Homo sapiens: one gene and its partner. The protein of the gene in region 1 interacts with the protein of each later gene in a biochemical or structural test. Each region holds a gene or a part of one and is shown on either strand. Other genes may lie near its edges.

What was found. The genes of interacting proteins can lie anywhere in the genome.
Region 2: the proteins of AP3S1 (region 1) and RNF13 form a complex in vitro, tested with the Homo sapiens proteins (one study listed by BioGRID).

Annotation. Positions count from the first base shown.
Region 1 is NC_000005.10:115,907,935-115,914,619, forward strand, and holds the end of AP3S1 (AP-3 complex subunit sigma-1), read left to right. Parts: intron 1-4,154; coding exon of another isoform or gene 4,155-4,202; exon of another isoform or gene 4,203-5,421; intron 5,422-5,427; coding exon 5,428-5,556; 3' UTR 5,557-6,147; downstream 6,148-6,685. UniProt on the Homo sapiens protein: Part of the AP-3 complex, an adaptor-related complex which is not clathrin-associated. The complex is associated with the Golgi region as well as more peripheral structures.
Region 2 is NC_000003.12:149,844,177-149,851,214, forward strand, and holds part of RNF13 (E3 ubiquitin-protein ligase RNF13 isoform 1 precursor), read left to right. Parts: intron 1-1,834; 5' UTR 1,835-1,850; coding exon 1,851-1,964; intron 1,965-7,038. UniProt on the Homo sapiens protein: E3 ubiquitin-protein ligase that regulates cell proliferation. Involved in apoptosis regulation. Mediates ER stress-induced activation of JNK signaling pathway and apoptosis by promoting ERN1 activation and splicing of XBP1 mRNA.

The sequences.
Region 1 (6,685 bases):
TCCTATGGAGGAAAAAATGTATAAACTTACGAAGTTAGATTATGCACTTACTAATTAGAAAAACATCACTGAGAATTGATGATTGTGGTGATATCACAAAGCATTGCCTTTTAGCCACTAAATTTTTACTTACTCTCTCGATGTGTTTGAGAAGAAGTAGCAACATACAGGTGGCTTTATAGTATCTTATTTTGAGATTGTGGGCTATGTCACAAAACTGGGGTACCGTTTTTGGTCCCTCTATCCATGTTATTTTGTCCCTCATATAGAGAATACATAGTAGTCTCATTCTCACCATTGGTCAGAATTATTGCCAGTTTCTGTGTTACAGTATGTAATTTATTACTGCTATTTTCCAGCAAAGAACCATTAATCACTTGGGTCTGTTAACTTTATTGCTAGAACTGTTAATTGGCCTTTTTTAAAAAAAATCAAGTTTCTGTTTTCAAAGAGGAGAGAATAAGAAAAGTGGCTCTAAGGTACTGATGGTGGAAGGTCAGCTCATGAGCTGGTTCTGCCTCTCTACCTTGACATACACATTTGTCTTGTACTTCTACAAAATTATGGTGAGAACCCTTGAGGTCACTTGTAATGGTCAAAACTAGTAATGATAAATCCATGAAAGTCATTAGTCTGCTCTCTTTTTTTCATGCAGGCAAATCCTATGTTTGAAATTAAAGCTATAATTGAAGATAATCCGTACAAAATGACTAATAATTTGGAAGGTTTTTTAAATTTTTGAGCACTCTAATTTTGTTAAAACTGTGAAACACCATAGTTATTGCTGTCTAGAGAATTGTCATGAGCTTATCTAAATGTTTATAATTGCAGTATTAAAGCACTGCCATTAAAACAAAGCCTATTATATATCCCCAGATTAAAAGTTATTCTACCTCGTGTTGAGGGATTTTTTAAACTATTGACATTTTCTTTTTTGCTCAAAAACATGCTTTCAAAATCTGCCATTATTTTGTTAATGATTTTGAGTCTGAAACCATTTAATATTGTGTTTATTAATGTTGGTGTTCTTTCACTTTGCTGTTAGGTCAAAATTATGAATGTGCATATAGCAACTTCCAGCAGGAAGGGTGGGTAAAGGTTTTAATACGTACAGTTTGTTCCAACTACCATCTTATTATGCTGTATTCAAACTTGAAAAAAAAAAAGATATTTTAAGATGGTAGGATGGTATTTTATGTCTTAGATGAAATAAATAACAAGATTACTCTATTACTTTCCTTTTCCCTTCAAGAAAGTTGATTGTTTATTGCATGAGGAAAAGGGAGCTTTCAGGGTCTTCGAAATACATTTTAGTAATGCTGCTTTTTCAGTTTTGCTTGCACATATTTTGTTTATTTTTGGGTCTGGCAATTTAAAAACAAAATCAAAAACAAATCATATCCATCCATTACTATCTTTGTGATTCAAGTGCTTGAAATTTCCAAGAGTATGTCTGTATAAGTCTTTATCTGTTTGGCCTCATTTTGGTATACTTGCAGACTTCATTTTGTTTTCTTTCTCTTAATTCTGTTAATTTATTTAATCTCATGGGAGAGAAAACATGATCATTCTTTTATATACTGTACTTCATTCTTTCATCCAGTTCATATTCTTAACTGCTTTGGATTCATATATTTGTTTTTATTGGTGTAGTCGCTGCAGTTTTACCTGCCATGGTGGTGCTCAGGTATAACATAGATGGAAACAAGTTATTTCTCCAGTAGAATTTCATTCTTTTTATTTCTGCTGTGTGTCAACTATATAATCTTAAATCTTTAAGAACTATGTTGTACTGTCAGAAATATCTTACTTTTACGTTTAAAAATGTATTTACAGTAATCCCCCCTTACCTGTGTTGGGTACATTCCAAAACCCCCAGTGGATGCCTGAAACTGTGTATACTACTGAACCTTATATATGCTATGTTTTTTCCTATGCATATATACATATGATAAAATTTAATTTATAAAATAGGCACGGTAAGAGATTAACAACTAATAATAAAAGAGAACAGTTATAACAGTATAATGCAATAAAAGTCATGTGAGGCCAGGTGCACTGGCTCACGCCTATAATACCAACACTTTGAGGGGCCAAGGCAGAAGACTCACTTGAGGCCAGGAGTTTGAGCCAGTCTGGGCAACACAGTGAGACCCCATCTCTACAAATGTATATTTTTTACATTAGCTAGGCGTGGTGGGACACACCTGTAGTTCTAACTATTCAGGAGACAGATGGGAAGATCACTTGAGCCCAGGAGTTCAAGGCTGCAGTGAGCCATGATTGCATCACTCACTCCACTGTGGGTGACAGAGTGAGACCCTGTCTCTTAAAAAAAAAAAAAAAAAAAAAAGTTATGTGATTGAGGCCTTTCTCTATCACAATATTGTACTGCACACACTTATTTTCAGACCACAGTTAACCACGGGTAAATGAAACCATGGAAAGTGAAATTGCGGGTAAGGGGGGACTACTGTACTGCTAACAAGTCAGGTAAACAATTTCTGTAAGTTTTAGCGTTGAAAAGTTAAGTGTTAGTAAAAGTTATTTTGTTGCTTTGAATGTATCTTACTGGAAAAAAAAAAAATCTTAACCAAGATGAAAATTACTTCATACCTCTGTGTCAGCAAACTGATTGCCTAATGGAAAGTTACTTTACATTTTATGTTTTAATAAAAATGTTTCAGGCATCACTTTCATGAATGTCTGAAAATGAAATTTGTTTTATAGCCATTCTGGTGTTGACTGAGTGACATAAAGTCTTTTTTTTTAGCCCTAAATTTTTATATATAAACATTGCTAGCTGGTTTAAACATCTGTTGATCAATTGTCCTTATCATATTTTCTCAACATTTTATATTTTGCATAATATGATTTCTTTTTAAAACGTTAGTTTAATTAAAACTTAAAGCACCTATTACAACTTTAAATTTTCCTACCATTTAAATTCATGGCATACTACACAAAAGTATTGAACATGCTTGAGAAATAATTTGATCCTCCTAATTCATTTGCGTGTTCTGAATAGTTCCTATCTTTTGCATGTCTATGGCTTGCTGCTTATGTTTAGAAGAATTGTAGTTTGTTGTACTTAGAAACTTCTTTTGGTTTTACATATTAAGCACAAATATGCTATTTAAATCAATTGCTATATTGACTTTATGTATTCTTGTTAGCAGCCAACAGTCGACACCATCTTTGGTCACAATGATACAACTCAATCTAATGAAATTTAACAGGATGCATTTTTAAATTTTTTTAATTTATTTTTTGCTTTAGTTTAGCTCTTCATGGTACAGGATATTATGGAAAAGAGAGCTTCATGTACATTTAATACTGAAAACATTATGTTTACTATTTATAAGTGTAAACCATAGTGTCCAATAAAATACACAGATAAACACACACACACACACGCACAATTTCTCTCACAATAATAAAATCCCTTAATAATTCACACCTTTAAAATATTTATACTCAAATATTTTGTCAATACTTTTCTATAGTCAGTTCATTATTTGTCTTCTTTATGGAAATTCCTAAGTAAAAATAGTGGCAAATTGGTCTTTTAACTAGAAAAATTACAAAATCCTCCTATCTAAAAAATGATACTACCTCCAGGACGTCTGCAATTTTGTAAATTTTTCTTCCTTAGTAGACAACATACTTCCTGGTAAAAGAAAGCCAAAAGATGGTAAACCTCTTTGAATTGGATTCTTCTTTGATCCCAACCCACTCTAAATTTTGGTAGCTAGACCTTTAACTTGAAACGATCAAATTAAAGACCCTTTCAAATATTATACATGCTGCCTTAATTATTATTTAGTTGTATCTCCAACATCTTTGGGGGAGCAGGAAGGAAGGGGGGGTAACAAAAACTTCATTGCTTCAGGTAGGTATAAGTATAGAGGTCAATCACATTTTTAGTTGTACATCAAAAATAACTAACATCCATTAAATTATAAAACTTCTCCAGCCCTATTCACTATTTAATTGGGTATGGAGTTATTCATTTGTATCACTCTTATCATTGCCTGTGTAGAATATACTTATTATTAATACTATTCTACTAATTTTTCTATTATTTCCAATTCTGAATTGATAATCCATGGCTTTTATTTCATTGCTTAACAATGTTTGTATCCTTTATTTAGCAAATAGTTTACACTGGCCTATTTTGTATCAGTCAAGATTTTTCTCAGGTAACAGCTTTATTATTATTTTTATTTTAATTAACAAAGGTAGGATTACATAAGAAAAGAAAACTAAAATTATGAAAAGGGACCTTAAAGCTAGTGTTTCTAATTTTATGGACATTGCCATATATAATCTAATCAAAGTGGAAGATTCGTTTTTGTTGTCTATTTTTGTACAAAATGATGCCACTGAACTCAGATGTCTTTGTTGACTTTGCTTTATTATATAGCCTGAATAAAAAGTAATGAAATGTAATTGGTATATAAATTAAACCTCAAATATGAAGGCTGTTAACGTAGGTGAGAAAAATGATATGTATGCATTTTCTTTTATTTGTAAGCATATTTTCTTTTAAAATTATTTCACAAATTACAAATGTTCCTACTAATAGGAAAGCCAAATATTATGCACTAGTGGTACTTACTGGAAATTTTAGAATTCATTTATTTATATTTACTACCTCTTGCATTTATGCTTTTCTTTCTCTAAATTTGTAAACTGTAAGCTGAATATATGTTGCTGAATCTATGCTATATGACAAAACATTTTTAATCGTTATATTTTTACTAATGCATCAAAGGGTTGGAATGATCCTCTTCGTGTAGTTTCATCTTTAGGCAGAACTATATTCTTTGGATTGAGGCTTTACTTGAAAGCCTATTTTTTTAATGTTCTAGAACTTTATTAGAAAAGTTTAAAAGAGCCCTCACAATTTAAAAAACTAATTTTATTGTTTTAAAATGTTTTAAGGGTTTATCCCTAAGAAATTAAACAAGCACAATCTATTACTTGCAATTTTTATTTCACAGCACATATTGCTAATAAATGCCATTTTAAAAGCAAAAGAAAATCTATCACAATCGTTGCAAGAGATATTTAATAAGGAAACTAATGTAAATCATGCTTCATGCTATCTGTCAGTTAAATCAAGATATAGGTGAAGATTTAGGTTTTATCATGTGAATATTGTGTGGTAGTGCACATTAATTTGTATTTAAATCTTTACATTGTTATCATTGCATGTGTTCACTGTATTTTTTAATGTGTCACTGTTTTCTCTTTATAGATTAGTATTTCAAAGTAACCATTCCATACCAATTCAAACTACCATCTGGTCCCTAAGCTTGTTATATGAAAATCTTTTATCATTGTCTTCCATTGTAAGTGTTTTATGATGAGCTACACCTGAGTTGTACATTTTCTTTTTCTTTTATTTGCTTCTGTATACAGGCTGGCTTAGCAGGAGCTCCAGCCCGTGCTGTATCAGCTGTAAAGAATATGAATCTTCCTGAGATCCCAAGAAATATTAACATTGGTGACATCAGTATAAAAGTGCCAAACCTGCCCTCTTTTAAATAAAAATGTAAAAAGGCCACTCCCAGGTAAAATCCAGGGGGAAGAGTCATCTAAGTTTACCATGCAGTTGTTTACCAAAAATAGAGGAGGAGAGTCTTAACTTTTGCTCTTGGATTTAAGTCAAGGTACTGTATAGAAGTTGTGTAAAATCAGTATGAAAGTTCAATGTTGCTGTTCTTGCTCAGTGATTTTAAAGAAATTGAGTAGTTCCTATGTGATTTTTTTTTTTCTTTTCTAAACTGCATTCCTGTGCCCACCTACGGCATGCCTCTATGTATTGGCTACTACAGTGTTTTAAAAAGTGTTTCAGATATTTCTCTAATTATGTACAACCTAAAATGTTGGTGTTTTGTATGGATCACAAGTGCAGCATTCCTTAATTCCTTCTGCTATATGTCACACAGTTGTTATTTGGAGAACCAAGTATGTATTGCATGAAAACATTATGACTTTTTTCTCTTAGTTTAAATAAACTCCAAGGTAACTGGACTTCTAAAGCACCTTTCTGTTTGCCTGATATCTACTTTAGCAATAATTTTTTTTACAACCCTCTGACTCAACAAAGTAAATAAAAGTATATTTTATCACTATTAAGCAGATGTTAATGTCGATTTATTTTTTACTCATATTTTTAATATTCAGAAACTCAGTAAATTATTCGGAAACTCAATTATTTCACAAATCAAGAGCAGTGTATCTTAGGCATATTGCGCAAGATGAGATCTGGAGTGGGGGGGCGACAGTCTTTCTAAAATGTATATTGAGAAAATGTAAAATCTTTTTTATACAAATAGCTTTAAGCCTTGCCTCTTGTTCCTTCTTGCCCAGATGGTAAAAAATAATTTCAGCCAATACCTAATTGATTTTGAATACAAAAACCCTTGGGACTCTACTTGTCTGTTTCATCCTAAAACAAAGTTAAACTAATGTTTTCTTAAGTCCTAACACTCACATATTCTAGTTTCTTATAATTGGCCCACATTTTATTTGGTCTTCCATGAACTGTGAGTGAGGTTACTTTTCCAGTTAGACTAAGGTTTTCCTTACAGTTCTAGTTCTCCTTCCTCAAATATTCTCTTTGAAATACTTCCATAGACTTGCAGCATGTATGAATTTTACTCCAAGAACCCTA
Region 2 (7,038 bases), on another chromosome or scaffold:
TTGTCCACATTCAGTGATTCACTAGGAGCATTTACAAGACTCAGCACATGGTTGTACTTATGGCTGTGATTTATTACAGCAAAAGGATACAAAACAAAATCAGTGAGAAGAAAAGGCACATGGGGTAAAGTCCAGAGTAAATCAGTGTAAGCGTCTAAGGGTCCTTTCCCAGTGGAGTTACATGGGATGCGTCTAATTCCTCAAGCAAGTTGTGACAACACATGTAAAATGTTTACCAGGGAAGCTCATTAGAGACTCAGTGCCCAGGGTTTATATTAGGGGTTGTTAATATAGACACTCTCTGTCTAGCATGCACCAAAATTCTAGATCCTAGAAGGAAAACAGGTATTCAGCACAAACCACATTTTTTGTAAAGTGTAGGCACACTGAGCTGTTCTTACTAGGAAATAGTGGGAACTGTCCTGAAATCTAAATTTCCAGATGCCAGCGAGGGGCCAACCTTGCAAGCAGACCTTTCTAGGGATAGCAATCTCAGGCCTGCTGTGTTAACTCTTTTCTGTACCATGGTATGTTATGAAATGTATTTTACTTAAGAAACGAATGTCAACAAATCTAGACATTTAAAAAAAGCTTTATTGAGATACAATTCTCACATTATAAAATTCAACCAATTAAAGTGTACAATGCAGTGATTTTTAGTATATTTATAGAGTTGTGCAACCATCACCAGAGTCTAATTTTAGAACATTTTCACCATCTCCCCTCCAAAACCCTTACTCATTAGCAGTCATTTCTCATTCCCACCTTTCCCCTCCCTCAAGCTTTCCCCCCACGCCCTGCCAATCCCTAGGCAACCACTAATTTACTTTTTGTCGTTAAGGAACAAATCTATACTTTAGCATGTTTTCATTTTTATTTCATCTCTGATATTAGTGGCTTTGTAAATGGTACCTTAAAAATTATTCACAGGTATTTTACTTCCAGTGTGTGAGTCAGAGATTCAGAGTTTGAGTCTATATGGCAGCTTCTATATCTAGAGCACTTATCCACACTAATCATCATCAAAACGGATATTACATGAGTTTGGGATATTTAATGAAATAATTCATTATAAAAGCCCTTGTTTTTGTAATGTTCGTTCTCACTTGTTTAAGAGTATATAATACAATTGATTGAGGCTTACCAATGATAATTTTTATATTTATGGGTTGACATTTAGTCTTTTCACGGTATCTTTTTGCTAAAAGAGAGAAAGGGACTCATAGTGAACAGGATGAAGTTGGGAGAGGTAGTTATGCTGTTGCCATTCAGACGTAGAGAGGGGAAAAAAGCATAGATTGTTAGGAGGTAATGGACAAAAAGTATTCCTTTATTATAAGTGGCTGTTAATTTTTTGGCATTCTCTGATGTTGGTACAATATACAATAGCAAATGAAAAGTAAATTTACATGTGAATTTATATTGAACCAGAAGTAAAAATTTTTTAAGTTGTAGAAAATTTTCAATTTTAAAGCAAAGATGCTTGTGTGTATGTTTTTAACCATTATTTTGGTTGAAATCTAGTTTCTCTGAAATTTGGGTTAGTAAGACAAGCTGTACTATAAACTGAGCACTGTGGGAGGATGTTTGTTTTGTGATTAAAACAGAACTTTGTCATCATGAGTTACATAGGTATTGACTAAACATGGGTGTTTACCTAAATGTCCAAATCTGTGTAAGTTCTTATGCTTTTGAAATAAAAGCTTTACTTTTAATGTTAATACATGTTTATAATTAAAAGGGATATTTTTGGACATTGGGAATTAATATATCAAATGATCTATTCCCTGGGACAAAGCACCAGCTCTCAGTTACTCACATCCTTGTCTTCCAGGTGATTTTACAACGAGATGCTGCTCTCCATAGGGATGCTCATGCTGTCAGCCACACAAGTCTACACCATCTTGACTGTCCAGCTCTTTGCATTCTTAAACCTACTGCCTGTAGAAGCAGACATTTTAGCAGTAAGTACAGTAAAATTTATTCATGTCTAGAAACATCCCTTAAAGAAAAGCTTAAAAAAAGCCTGGAATGATATTTATAAGACATTGTTATAAGACATTTTTATCTAAAAACATACCCCAACACATATACACAGTTACTTGACATTGAGGTACCTTATTCATTTGTTTATTTATTTTTTGAGACGGAATTTCATTCTCGTTGCCCAGGCTGGAGTACATTGTTGCGGTCCTGGCTCACTGAAACCTCCACCTCCCGGGTTCAAGCAGTTCTCCTGACTCACCCTCCTGAGTAGCTGGAATTACAGGCGTGTGCCACCATGCCCGACTAATTTTTTTGTATTTTTAATAGAGACAGGGTTTCACCATGTTGGCCAGGCTGGTCTTGAACTCCTGAACCTAAGGTGATCTTCCCGCCTTGGCCTCCCAAAGTGTTGGGATTACAGGTGTGAGCCACCACGCCCAGCCCCTTATTCATTTTCTATTGCTTCATATCTAATGTAAGATCTCATGAACAATCAGTACCTGATAAATAATGTTGCTCATGAGGGTATGTGTGCACATGTGGGTGCTTTGCACACATACCTACCTGCTGTGTGCTTACATAGAATTTTACTGTTTTTCTTGGTACCTAGTACATCTCTTAATGACTGTAAGATCTCAGTAGTATCTCTATTGATAATAATATTTAAGAAATTCTATAAGATGTTCATAGAAAATTTCAACCCAAGATTAGCATTAATGAATCAGAAGAGAAGCACAGTGGTCCTATCTTTGATGGTGGATAGAAAAGTTTTTAGAGAAGAAGAGTGCTGCTCAAAACCTTAGCATAGCCTCTCTTAGCTACTGTCTTACTTTCCTCCACACTGGGGAGTATACAGATGGTCTCCAGCTTAAGATAAGGCTTGACTAGTGAGCTTTCGACTTTATGATGGTATGAAAGTGATATGCATTCAGTACGCACCTCAACTTATGATGAGATTATGTTCCAACAACCCCATCATAAGTTGAAAATATCATAAGTAGAATTTGACTTATGAAACATTTTTGACTTAGATATTTTCAGTTTATGATGAATTTATCCAGATGTAGCCCCATTGTAAGTTGAGGATATATATTTTCTATTTCTCTTTTTCTGTGAAGGTAGAAAAAGAACATACATGCCTATACTCTAGGTCTGTGCTAAGGATTTGGTTTTACTTTCTGGGTGCAACTGATTTGCTTAATGATATCAGGTGAGAAATAAAAGGGCAAGAATTGTTGCTGACCAAAGCTTGATGTGGTCCCCAGCTGTGCTTCTGCACATTGCAGTAATTCTGGAAGATTCTGAGATCATTGTAGCACTTGAGAGAGCCAGGCTGGTTTCCATACCACAGCTTTTGAAGGCAGAGGATGCTAGTAATCCATACGAGATTTCTAACCCCCTGTTGTCCTCTGTAGTAGGGAACTGGTTGATTAGGTTTGTTTTGGGGAATAGTCTTGGTCTTTTTGAGGTGGAATGGAAATAGAGCCTTTAAAGACTGAGTCCATTGCTATCCAAATCTCCCTTCTAAATTGGTCCCTAAAATCCTTAGAATATTCTTGGCATGACTTTTGAAATGAGTTAGAGGATTTATGGACTGATCAGGGAATAAACTTCTCCTTGTCTCCTTTCTCTCCTTTGATTTCTTCCATTTTGTGTCTCTCTTTTTCCCTCTCTGTTGTTTTTAATACTTTTTGCCTTCTTTCTTTCATTTATACCCAAGGTGGATTGCTATTCTGTGGTGGAGCTCCCTGATGGGTTAAATGATTTTCAGTGTTGTGCTCTGGGAACTTAAGCAGATATATAACCTTGATCAAATTACTCAGCTGCTATAAGTGCCACAGTTTCTTTATTTCTTCATGTAAACTGGAGTGTTGTGGTGGTGATTAAATAAGATAAACTGCTTAGAATAGTATCTGACACATAGTAAATATTTTATATATGGTTTTAATCTTCATTATAATTATCATTCTGATTATACTTCATTCAGCCCCTTGAGAAGATACAAAACTACCTGAGCTGTATTTTTTAATTTAGAGACAAAAAAAAAATGTTAGGTATGGAAGAATGGTCAATCCTTTTTGCCAGCAGTGTTCCTTGTGCTTTACACAGGTACTTGTGGAATGTATGTTGATGTCCTGTAGTGAAGGAACTGTAAGATGGGAGCTGCTTAAATCTGGTCTCTATGCTGTCCATAAGGATAGAAGGCTGACACGAATGCAAAGATGGCTGGAGGGGAGTGGCTTGTGAAAGCATATAACTGGTAAAACAGGGAACTAAAAATTGAGACAGAGGAACTGGATGTGTGACAATCATTCAAAGGAAGTGAGTTAAGAGGTAGAAAATAAGAGCACCTCCTTTTAATGCAATAAGAGCATCCCTGAAATCTGAGTTTGCAGTAATACAGATATAAATAAATTAGACATCTAGTTCCAGTCAACTAGGTTGATTCTAGTTCCATTTGCACAGGGCTTGGGGTGCTGCTTTTGAAAAATTAAGTTTTAGTTATGCTATTTGTAATGCCAGATGCCTTTGATTTTTTGGTTGGTTGGTTGGTTGTTTTGTTTTGTGTTTTTTTTGTTTTTTGTTTTTTGTTTTTGGCAGTTGAATTCAATTCACAGACAACAGTGTTTGTCCAAGTAGTTGTTGAGTTCTAAGAGGCTATGGAGATGCTACTGTAGCATCTAGTCTATAGCTGACTAGACTAGCTGACTAGTCAGACAGACCTCTAGGCCATGAGTACTTGGAAGGCAGGACTGTGTCTTACTAAACTTTATTCCTGGTGCCTGGTGTCAGTTACACAGGAATTCAATAAACGTTTGAAGTAATTAAAAGCCTTCTCTTAGAGATTTTGTACCATCACATTTTCTTTTAATAGCATCTGTTCCTTAGTACTTTTAGATTACTGTTTTTATCTCTTATCATTTTTCTTTTACCCAAAAAGAAACGTAATACTATTAATTATGTAGGTTTATACTAGAAACATGGAATTTTAGAATTGCACTTAAGAGAGAACTACATCAGTGCTGTATATTCTGAGACTCAGAGTCCACAAGTGACATGTTAGTTTTGAGTAGTGCCCATGATTTTACTGAGAAGTAACATCCATCTTATATGAGAGTCAAACAACCCATGTAGCTTGATGCCCAGTCTGCCTTTTGATTCTTTTGTCTGGATTTGTCAGAGAGAATTGGTTGCTGGGTAGTGATTATTGAGGGCCAGTGTGCTGTGTAGCAAAGAAACACCCAATGGGTGGTGGTGTGAATGGATTGGATTATATAGCATGGGTAGTCCAGGCTCCAGAAATGGATTTATAATCAGAGTTGAAATCCAGCTCTACCACTCTATTTGCATGACCTTGGGCAGATTACTTAACATTTCTTAAGTCGCAGTTAACTTTGTAAAAGTGAGAGTTTGTGAAGGACAGTGCAGGGTAGTGGGTTAAGGGCTGGAGCTCTGTGGCCAGACTGCCTCGGTTAGAATCCTGGTTCTTCTAATTTACCAGAGCTTGTTATTTTCAACATTCTGTTGTCAATCTGTAAAATGAGGATGATAGTAATAGTGGCCTACTTTGTAGAGTTGTTGTTAGGATTAAATAAATTATTACCTGTAAAGTGCTTAGCATGATGTCTGTACATAATGAGTGCTCAGTAATTGTTAGATATTTATTACTTTCTAAATTCAATTAAACCTTTTGTTAAGGAAGCTGTCAAGAAAAATAATTGGTTAAGGAAAAGACCTTTTCAAAATAAGTGGAGTCAAACTTATGTGGTAATCACTAAGAATGGGATTCTAGTGAGGAGTAACTATTTTCTACTTCAGATTTTTTTTTTTTTTTGAGATGGAGTCTTGCTGTGTTGCCCAAGCTGTTGTGCAGTGGCGCAATCTTGGCTCCCTGCAACATCTGTCTCCTGGATTCAAGCGACTCTCCTGCCTCAGCCTTGCAAGTAGCTGGGATTACAGGCATTTGACATCAGGCCTGGCTAATTTTTGTATTTTTAGTAGAGATGGGGTTTCAACATGTTGGCCTGGCTGGTCTTGAACTCCTGACCTCAGGTGATCTGCCCACCTCGGCCTCCCAAAGTGCTAGGATTACAGGTGTGAGCCACCACATCCGGCCTACTACTTCAGATTTTTAAACAGTGAACATGCTTTAATTTTATGAGCATCGCTCCCCTCCCTCCTTATACCAAAAACGTAAAGTACCTTTGTTAGTCTTGTTCACTGTAGGAACATTTTTTGTTTTAAACAATATGATTTTAAGAGACAATATGAAACAATCCTTATTTTGCTGTTAAGGAAAGACAAAGCAGTTTCAAAAAGGGTTTCATTCAGTAACAAAACTTATTCCACATCTCAGTGTTACAAGTACTGTAGTTCAAGCTAGACATTTTATTTCTATAATTTTAGCTATAATAGTGAAACTCTTAAGTAATAGGAAGAGATAAAAGAATACTTTAGTATAGTTTGTAGATTCCCCATTTCCTAATTTCAAAAGTACATTAAAAAATACTGCTTACACACATTTGTATTTTGTCCTCATTCTATTTCCATTGATCTAGATAAGTTACTTTATTTTACAGTGACATCTTTGGCTGGGATGAATTAAATGTTTTTCTCAAGTTCAACATTAACCTGATCATAGGTGAATTAAATCAATTAAATGTGTTTTAATTAAGAGATTAAACGATAGATTGTGATAATGGGTTTAAAAGCATTTTGTAACTCTGAAGTACTTTGTAAACTATGGAGTACTCTGCAAATATGAATTATTGTTGCAATGGGAAATCACGCTGAAGCAATTACCACATATACTTGATGGCCTCCAAGTACACTGCTAGGATGATTATCCCAGCAATGACAGAATGAATAGGTTTAGTGACTGCATTTAGATGCTTGAATCACACAGTTTCCTGAGCTAATTACAAGCATACAGTGAGAGGCAAAGGTATAAGATGGACATGCTAAGACACTCAAGATAGGGTTCCAGTGGGATGCAAGAACCACACTACCTGAATCCTGGGTCACTTGTTGTAGTTTGTCCAGTCTTCCTGT